2 separate regions of the Homo sapiens genome follow, and region 1 is linked to region 2. The links come from fine-mapping of genetic effects on gene expression. Tissue or cell type: testis. Region 2 holds a variant in brackets; the other region holds the start of a gene. All regions are shown on one strand. Distances are between the middles of the regions.

Region 1 (5,151 bases), 27 kb before region 2:
TTTCTTAAATATATTGAATCATGGTTTTCTATTACTTGCAGCCAGAAGCCCCCTCTCTAATACAATGAACTTTAATTCTGGTGTTAGACTGCATGGATTCTAATCCTCATTCCATCAACAATTAGCCATGTGACCCTGGGCAAGTCTCTTGACCATTCTGACCTTGGTTTTCCTCTTCTGTAGAATATGGTAGGTGATAAAAATTCAAGACCAGTGGGAGGGTACAATAGGAGGATGAAAATCAAAGCACTTTGCAAATGGAAAAGCCTGAGGTATTACTGGATATTATTGTTGGTATTATAGATTCAGCAGGGCCAGAAGAAGCCTGAGGCATCCTGGGGGGCTCAGAGCCTGCCCTTGTTCCTGGGAATGGACTCTAGGAAGGGAGCAGCTGCAGCTGCTCAGATAAGAGCACATTTGCATTCTCCCAGCCTCCCTGCCCAGAGCTCTGCAGACTGAGCCAGACAAGCAGCCTTTCTTGGGGGCACAGGGCCAGCAGCATGCATCTGATAGAGGCAAGGAAGCTGAGATGGGGGCTGAGAGGGGGCTGCACCCCAGCCATGTAAGTCCACCAGGGAAGGTCATGCACTAGTAACTGTGTAATAGTTCAACTATCACTTCCCGACAGTCTACTAGGTGGCCAAATCCTTTGTTTTAAGCATCTCCTTCAACCCTGGCAACAACTCTATGAATAGAAGTAGCTTTATTCCTATTTTATGGATGAGAGACCCAATGTTCAGAGAGGTTAACAAACATGTCCAAGTTTACACAGTCAGGCGTGGAAGAGCCAGGTCTGTCTGACTCCAAAGCCGTGCTCTTAATCACTATGCTGTAGCCAAGAATATTAAATGCCCCTCAAGCAGCAAGGAAAGAAGAAAGCAAGAGCAGTCCTGGAAAGAGTGGGGCACTGTGTTTATTGACCTCCTTGCCTTCCTGGAGCTCACTGCCCAGCCTATGACTGAAGCATTCAGACTCCAACTCTCCCTGCATTTTGCTTTTAACATCCTGGCCTCTCTCAAAACTTTAATTTTCTTGTGTCAGCTCTCTTAAGAGTCCCTGAGGGAGACAATGCTGCTCTGAAAACGGCTCCAGAAAAGTGGAGAACATACTTTTCACGCAGGGTCTGGGGGCCCAACAGAGCAAGTAAAGAGGAGCATTTGGGATTGGACTGGTTATTCTCTGTTTGTGACACTCCCCCAACCAGATCCACTCTCTGCCATGCTCTGCACTGCCCCAGGTCCTAGCATGCTGGCCTGTATGGATGGTATCAACAGGCTCACTTTTCCTGTGGCTTCTCTGTGGATTTGACCAACAGGATGTCACCAGAAAAGATTAAAAAGCTAGAAGGAAGTTCTAAGTATTTCTCCCTCCAACCCTACCACCACTCCCCCAGCCTCAGTGCTGCAACTCCACCTGTGGTGAAGTCCTTCTTTTTTTTTTTTTTTTTTTTAACAGAGTCTTGCTCTGTCACCCAGGCTGGAGTGCAGTGGTGTGATCTTGGCTCACTGCAACCTCTTCCTCCCAAGTTCGAGATTCTCCTGCCTCAGCCTCCCAAGTAGCTGGGGCTACAGGTGTGGATCACCATGCCCACCTAATTTTTGTATTTTTAGTAGAGACGGGGTTTCACCGTGTTGGCCAGGCTGGTCTCAAACTCCTGACCTCAAGTGATCCGCCTGTCTCAGCTCCCAAAGTGCTGGGATTACAGGCATGAGCCACTGCTCCCAGACAGCTGTGGCTAAGTCCTTCTCGACTACAGCTCCTGCTGGTTCCCTCCCTGGTTCTACCTATCACCAAGTTCTGGTAGGCCCACTCCTCTCTGCATATTTAAGCCTAGGGGTGGTAACATTTCCCAACTATTGCTAGTCTCTTGGTGCCTCAACATCTCTCATTGGTTCTCCCAACCTTGCCTGCTCCTCTGTGAGTAGTACCTTCATTAAATTTTCTCTAAACTCCCATTTTTCTGTTTCCTCATAGGGCCCTGAGTATGAGGAGGTGGGACAGAGAGTGGGTGGCAGTTTGTAATATGTCCTCAAGGAGTTGGACTGTCTTGGCTCAGCTATTTGGGTATTAATAAATTTGCCAGTGGGAGGAACTTTAAGAAAATTGCAGTGATTGGTTCTACTCTGTGTGATGTCATCAGAGGAGGGTGGAGCTTTGTGGCTAGGGCAGTCCTCCACTTCCGGAGATCCAGGCTCCAGAAACAGAGGAATTTCAGGCTTCAGGATTTCAGAGGCCAAATTCCATCTGGCCTAGTCTGCCTGGCTCACGGTAAGCTTTAGAATGGTAAAGAATAGAAAGTCTATGGTGGCAAGATGGTATGTAGCTGTCACACACAATAGCACCCTCTTTTCGGTTATATGGCACTTTCAAATTTACAAGGCATTTTCTCATGAATTTGTACATCTGAGCCTCATAACAATCCTCTGAGACAGATTAAGGCTGTTTACTCCCATTTTACAGCTATGAAAATTAAAAATTAAAAATTAGAGAAGGGAAGGGACACATCTAAAAATCACATAGCACCAACGGGTCTCAACTTCCAGCCATGGTGATCCCAAGTCTGGGGCTCTTTTGAACACACTTCAGATTTCTAGCTGATGAAATATCTGCTTCAGTGGCTGCAAGATCACTAGTCAACCCTAAGAAGGCTGTCCTTCCCTCAAACTCAAAAAATAAATAAATGAATAAAAACTAGCATTTGTTCATTGAAAATCTATTAAGTACAACACATTGGGCAAAATACTTTATATACACTTTATCCCTTTTAATCCTCAATAATGATGTGAGGTAGTTATAATTATCCCATTTTAATGAAAAGGAAGCTGAGGCTCAGAGAGGTGAAGTGATTTTCCCAAAGTCACAAAGATATAAGTGATAGACTTGGGATTTGAAATAAGTCCATCTTATGCCTCCTGTGCTCAACCATTGCACCAAACCTCCTCCTAAAAGAAAGCATTGTTGTGATGGATGAAAGCCATGTCCTTCTCCTCTGCCAATGCCTGGAGCTATGTTTGCAAATGGAGTGAGCTGCATGTTGAAACCTAATTATTCTGCAAGCAGCACCCATAACAAGGCAACCCCTCTCCTGGCAGCTTGTCTTCAATTCTTTGCTCCCACACAATATTGCCAGAGGCTCAGGGGGGATGAGAGTCAAGTTTCCATAGACGGAATGGATGAAACCTCACTCATCTGTAGCATTTCATACTTTTGGATGTGTTTGAACATCCATTGGGTCACTTCATCCTTGCAGTAAACCTGTTGAGCACATAGGACAAATATTTCCACACCCCGTCTTTCTCTAGAGAAAATGAAGGGTACAAAGAAGCGAAGAGACCTTGTCCAAGGTCACACAGCTGGTATAGGTAAAGCCAGGATTCCAACCTACCTAGATTGTGCTCCAAATCTTTTGCTCACTCTACTACCCTGTGCTTGTCATCTTGAAATAAGAATCTGAGAGGTAATGTGACTTTCCCAAGGTCACACAGCAAGACATCCTTACCAGAATTAGACTCAACCGACATACCTTGTGTATCCTAGCCACCCCCACCCTTCCACATTGTCTCCTCTTTACCTCCTTCTTCATTCCTAGAAATTCTCCCCTCTTGATTTCCCACCTCAAGTTCTCCCTCTAGAGGTAGTTCAAACTAAGAGATGTCTCTCACCCCATGACCTCCTTGAGAAGAAACACAGAAAGAGAAGGGGAGGGAAGCCATTGCAGGCAATACTTGTGTGAGTTGGTGATGGCAATGTTTCTCAAACTCTTGTCAGCATCTGCCTGCTCTCTGCCTGCAGGAAGGAGGTGGAACAGCTGTGCGCACATCTGCCAGAGGAGCTCTTTAAAGAGCAGAGAGGATGCTATTTTCCTACCAGCAGTAGCAGCAGCAGGGCAAGTGCTTGAGGCTCATTTTGGGTTGATTCTCTCTCTGACTAAAGGTTCATGTCTTCAGAACAGCTGTGCACACAGAGTGGAGTAAGGCTGTCAAGCAAGGAGACCTCTGAAGCAATCTCAAAAGCCCCCTGGTCAAATTCATGTGAACTGACTATTCACAGAGGTTGCTTACAAACAGAATATAATAACTAAGACTAATTGTGTATGCCAGATGTATAACTTAGAACAGCTATCAGCTATCATGTGTATATGTGTATACTTACTAAATATATATATATCTACTGTATATAAAATACAGATATCTACTGTAGATTATAATATATATATATATACACATATATATATATCAAAAAAACTCTACATCATGGCTACTATTATTATCATCCCCATGTCTCAGAGGGGAAAGCTGGGGCAGAGTTAAGTTAAATACCTTGCCAAAGGTTACACAGCTTCATTGTGGTGGAGCCAGAATTAAAGCCCAGAAAGTCGAGTTACAGAGTCAATGTCCTTTATCTCTGCGCTATATTTACTCTGAGTGATTCTAAAAATGTAGTGCATATAAGAATTACCCTGACACTGTTTAAAATTCAGATTCTTGAGCTCCTGCCCTCTAAATTCAGGAGGGATGGGCTAGAGAGCTCAGGGATATGCATTTTAATAAGTTCCCTTGCTTGGCTCTTGTACCTATGGTTGATAGACCACTCTTTGAGAAAGAATTACCAAGAAATGTGTTCATTCACATATTTTATAAGGTAAGAACTGTATGTCAGGACCTGGGATAGGCATAGCAGATAAGAGGAAAGGTAATTATGATGCCAGCTGTAACTTTCTGAATGCTAACCATGTCCTAGGAACCTTGCTAAATGTCTTGCATTCATTAATGTTTAATTATCACCACAACCCCATAAGGCAGGTGATATTATGACCTCTTCATTACAGATAAGAAAACCGAAGTTCACCAAAGTAAAGTGACTTGTCCAAGACCTCACAGCTATCAAGTAGAGAAACTGGGATTTGGATGCAGGTCTGTCTGACTCCAGACACCGCGATCTTAACCATCGAGGCAGAGTTTCTACCTTTTAGGAATTTCCAAATAGAGGAGACAACCTCAGGACTTGAACAATGCAGAAACACAGTCAAAAATACAAAGAGCTAGGGAGTGATGCCTATATTGTGCTGTGAGGGTTAATATCGCTTCCTGTCAAAGGACAATCTAAGGGAGGTGATATTTGTTAATATACAAGGTTTTTTTTAAAAGAAGG
Region 2 (5,151 bases):
CCCAAACACCTTCTGGATCTTTATGGCTTTAGTTCTAGCTCAGACGGGGGGGCTCTCAAACCTGGCCTCGCATAAGAAGTAGCTGCTAAGGTTTCTTTCTACAATTCAAAGTCCTGGGCTCTGCCCCAGACACACTAAAGCAAAATCTCTGAGTACAGAGCCAGGGAATCTGGATTTTTTTTCTTTCCTCAAGTAATTTAATTTTTTAAAATTAATTTTTTATTGAGGTGAAATTTGCAGGGTAAAATTCTGCATTTTAAAATGTGCAATTCAGTGGTATTTTAGTACATTCACGATGTTGAGCAACCCTCACTTCTATCCAATCCCAAAACATATTTATCAACCCAAAAGGAAAGCCCGTATCTCACTCTCCCCTCCCAGCAACTGGCAACCACTAACCTGCTTTCTGTATCTATAGATTTGCCTATTTAGGACATTTTATATAAGTGGAATCATAGAATATCTGTTCTTTGTGACTGGCTTTTTTCACTTAGCATAATGTTTTCAAGGTTCATCCATATCGAAGCATGTATCACTTCATTTATTTTTTATTATTAATTTTTGTCTCACTCTGTCGCCCAGGCTGGAGTGCAGTGGCACAATCATGGCTCACTGCAACCTCCACCACCTAAGCTCAAGCGATCCTCCCACCTCGGCCTCCTGAGTAGCTGGGACCACAGGCGCATGCTCACCATGCCCGGCTAATTTTTGTACTTTTTGTAGCAACAGGTTTTCGCCATGTTGCTCAGGTTGGTCTCAAACTCCTGGGCTCGAGTGGTCTGCCTGCCTCGACCTCCCAAAGCTCTGGGATTACAGATGTGAGCCACAGCACTCAGCCTGGATATACTACAATTTGTTAATTTATTCATCAGTTAATGGATATTTGGGTTGTTTTCACCTTTTGGCAATTGTGCATAATACTGTCCCCAAGTGATTTTGATTTTACCAAGTTGAGAGTTGGCATTTGGGAACCAGTACTGGGGTTACAATCACTTAAAAAAAAAAAAAAAACAAACTTCTTGAACTTCAGCATGCTTCCCTCAGAATCACCTGAAGAGTTTGCTAGAGCCACTTTCCGAAGATACCCTGGTTCAGTAGATCTGGGTGGGACCTGGGAATCTTCATTCATAATGAGGCCCCCGCCCCTCATCCCTGATGCAATTCTGATGCAAGCGGCCTACGCACCACTCTGTAAGAAACAGTGATTTAAAAGAAGGTTATCCATGGTGGCTTGCATGCTGGGACATTTTTTTCCTGTTCTTTAACATTTGCCAATATTTGTTAAATATTCAATAGGGAGCATGATTTAATTTTATATTCAGAATTACTTTGGATATTAACAAATAAAGAAAAAAGGGAAATAATTCTAATGCCTGGCCTGATTCTTCCTCTCCCCAGCCCTACTCTCACCAGCTAAGACTTCTTAGACGGAGTCTTGCTTTGTCACCCAGGCTGGAGTGCAGTGGCGTCATCTCAGCTCACTGCAACCTCCATCTTCTGGGTTCAAGTGATTCTCCTGCCTCATCCTCCCGAGTAGCTGGGATTACAGGTGCCCACCACAACGCCCACCTAATTTTTTGTATTTTTGGTAGATATGGGGTTTCACCATGTTGGCCAGGCTGGTCTCGAACTCCTGATCTCACATGATCCACCCACCTTGGCCTCCCAAAGTGCTGGGATTACAGGCGTGAGCCACCGAGCTCAGCCTGGCTAAGACTTCTTGACCCCACCCCCATGCTTCCCGAAGCTCAAGCCTTTCTGAAATGCACGCACACATGTTAAGAAAGCCAATGGCTGATATCTATGCACAGGACACTTTTGCCTACGGCATGTCATACAATTTGCTTACTTACTATGCGCCTTTTGGAGCATCTAAGGAAATCAGAGCTGGGGGCTGGATCTCTGTTTGTTTTCCTACAGATAATGATATTCTCCCACCACCTAAGTTAATAGATTGAGGCTTGCAGGCATTTATGAGGGGTGTTTTTAATATGGTTCTGGAATATTTGCCCTATAAATTCTTAAGAACAGACTTATAGATTGCCCATTACCAACATTATGGGCTATTAATAAATCAGTTACAGTCACGTATTTTTTAAAAATTGCATTTCTCCCTTTGTGTTCACATTCTAAGCAGCTAAAAATTGGTGAGAGAGAGAACATCCGTGCTGGATAAGGGCTGTGATTTCCTATAGAAAGATGGCAGGGGAAGGGAGTTGACAGCTAAGTCTGAAAAGACAAACAGTTTGAAGGAAGAAACGAAGAGAAGTTAGGGGCCCCCACCAGCTGGGCGTTGTTGAGATATTTTAGAGCCACAATCTATCTTCTGGTGTGCTCAGGCAACAAGGATGAGTCCGCTAGTGTCTGTCCTACTGTTTCCTTTGCTATAAATCCCCTTGATATTTCTCTGCGCAGCTGCTCTGGGTTCACTTTGCATTTATGGATATGCTGCCTATTGTGGACAGTACCCTGGGCATTGCCAGGACTCTATGGCTGGTATGCACACAAATGCAGTCACATGCAGGGACAGACTCGAGTTCTCCAGCTCCACAGTCCCTTCCCACTGGCATAACTGGCAAAATCCCTTATTCCCGTCAAGTTTCTCATTCCAATCCAGAAGTCCCTAGGGGATGACGTTGCATTAGTGTTTGGTACTCCTGGAAGCTGCTGTTTTTATACCACCACTGCCACAGCACTGTTTCCCACCTGTGGCACTCAGAGCTCCCTCAAATTGGCACTG[C/T]CTTTTCTAGCGGTGTACATAGTTTATCCATCACCTGCCCCACAGGAGGACCACACTGCACTGGTGCTGGGGACCACATTGTTGCAGCACTTTGTATTTTTACCCATACAATCCTTTTCTCCAACAGCAGTAAATCTATGATGATAAAAGTAAGTATCCGTTTTTTTGTTTGTTTTTTTTTTTTTTTTTGGAACTGCTCTTTTCCTTGAGCCCCCAGGACTTGTAGCTGAAACTGAGTCACAATGCCCATTGAAATTTTCCCCTCCAAGTGGATTCACCTGAATGGATCATTTGGCCACTTTACAACTTTTCGTTATTCAGCCCCATCTCCCCCTACCCAAGCTATCATCCATGGTGTTGTCTGAACACCGAGCCACTGAGGCTGGTGGCATTTTTCCCCCAGAAGGCTCCAGTGCAAATCAGTAGATGCAAATAGACAGCAATTTCTGGCATCATAGACCCTGTGTGATATAAGAAGACATTGCTGGCTGCCATAACAAACCAACTTAACATCTCAGTGGCCTAAGACAAGCAAGGTTTATTTCTCACTAACTTCACAGTCTGATACAGCTCAGGAGGCCTTCCTGATGGCTCTCCTCCAAGCAGTGACTCAATGATCCAGGCTCCATTCGTCATGTGTTGCTGTAATCTGCAATGTATGACCTCCACTGTCACTGCAGAAGAGGAGAGAAAGGGGTTAGTGGTGGAAGATATCTGAGACATGGCACCAAAGTATGGTACCAGTGGTGAATCTGTACAGGTCTGTGGCAACCTCAATTATTGCCTCCTCAGAAGAAAGAACTCAACAGGGGGCAGAAGACAGAAAGAGAGGCCAAGGCAAGTTTTAGAACAGGAGTGAAAGTTTATTAAAAAGCTTTAGAACAGGAAGGAAAGGAAGGAAGGTACACTTGGAAGAGGGCCAAGCGGGCCACTTGAGAGATCAAGTGTATGGTTTGACCTTTTGACTTAGAGTTTTATACGTTGGCATAATTCCAAGGTTTATGTTTTGTCTTGTTTTGTTTCGAGACAGAGTCTCACTCTGTCGCCCAGGCTGGAGTGCAGTGGCGTGATCTCAGCTCACTGCAAGCTCTGCCTCTCGGGTTCATGACATTCTCCTGCCTCAGCCTCCCGAGTAGCTGGGGCTACAGGTGCCCGCCACCATGCCCGGCTAATTTTTTGTATTTTTAGTAGAGATGGGGTTTCACCGTGTTAGCCAGGATGGTCTCGATCTCCTGACCTCGTGATCTGCCCGCCTCAGCCTCCCAAAGTGCTGAGATTACAGGTATGAGTCACCGCGCCTGGCCAATTCCAAGGTCTTGAGTTACATCTCTCCTGATTTTTCCCTTGGGGTGGGCTGTCCACATGTGCATGCTTAAGCCCACTTTTCCAACTCCTGAGATCTTCCTGGGAAGCTGCTGATCACCAGTTTCAGATGTTTTCTATCTTTTGGGAGCCTGCCTTTCCCTGTCACCAGCTGTGACCAATTATTACTTTACAGAGACAGTTAACAACAGCCTGACTATCCCCTGATGATCTCCCAACACTCCTGGCATGTGTGTGTGTGTGTGTGTGTGTGTGTGTGTGTGTGTGTGTGTGTGTGTGTGTGTGTGTGTAGGGGGAGCCCTCTCCTGCCCTGCTCATGCCAGACTAGCTACCCACTATAACAAAGGGAGCATTAAGGAATCTTCAATGAGACACCTGCCTTCCACTGGCTAAAACCCCGTCATGTGGTTCCAACCTAATTGCAAAGAAACCTGGGAAATTTGATTTTCCTGCATGGCTAAGAGGAGGGTATGAGATTATTGACCATGTAGTTTGTCTCTGCCACATACCAGTCTCCATTTAAACTCAGCCAGGAATCCAAGCACATGTGGATTCTTAAAGATTTTGTTCTCCTAATGAGATTATACATTTCCTAAGGGTAGAAATTATTATTCTCTTGAGTATCCCCAAACCCACAAGCAGTGCTTAGTACAGTGGTCCCTGACGTTTTTAGCACCAGGGACAGTTTTCATGGAAGACAATTTTTCTGTGGATGGTAGAAGTGGTGGTTTGGGGATGAAACTGTTACACCTCAGATCATCAGGCATTAGATTCTCATAAGGAGCACGCAACCTGGATCCCTCGCATGTGCAGTTCACAATAGGATCACACTCCTATGAGAATCTAATGCTGCCTCTGATCTGACAGGAGGCAGATCCCAGGGTAATGCTCACTCACCCAATGCTCACCTCCTGCTGTGCAGCCAGTTCCTAACAGACCACAGACTGGTACCAGTCCATGGTCCAGAGACTGGGGACTGCTGGCTTAGTATACACTGAATGTCCATCCATGGCCACAGACTTCTAGAAACCAAGGACATCTCCAGAGGTAATTTGGGCCAATTATCTGCCTTCAATTCCTGAATATGT

What was found. PIP is the estimated chance that this variant, and not a neighbour inherited with it, causes the effect.
Region 1: it holds the start of LINC02423, and the variant in region 2 is fine-mapped to the expression of LINC02423 in testis (GTEx, PIP 0.94).

What each region holds. Positions count from the first base shown.
Region 1 is chr12:118,758,709-118,763,859 of GRCh38, reverse strand. It overlaps LINC02423 (long intergenic non-protein coding RNA 2423), which reads left to right and starts at 2,181. Exons shown (of 2, transcript NR_134999.1): 1 at 2,181-2,268; 2 at 4,829-5,106.
Region 2 is chr12:118,731,759-118,736,909 of GRCh38, reverse strand. No RefSeq gene overlaps it. Among named protein-coding and RNA genes, the nearest start is that of LINC02423, 27 kb to the left of the region's middle. The variant C/T (reference allele first, on the strand shown) is at 2,741.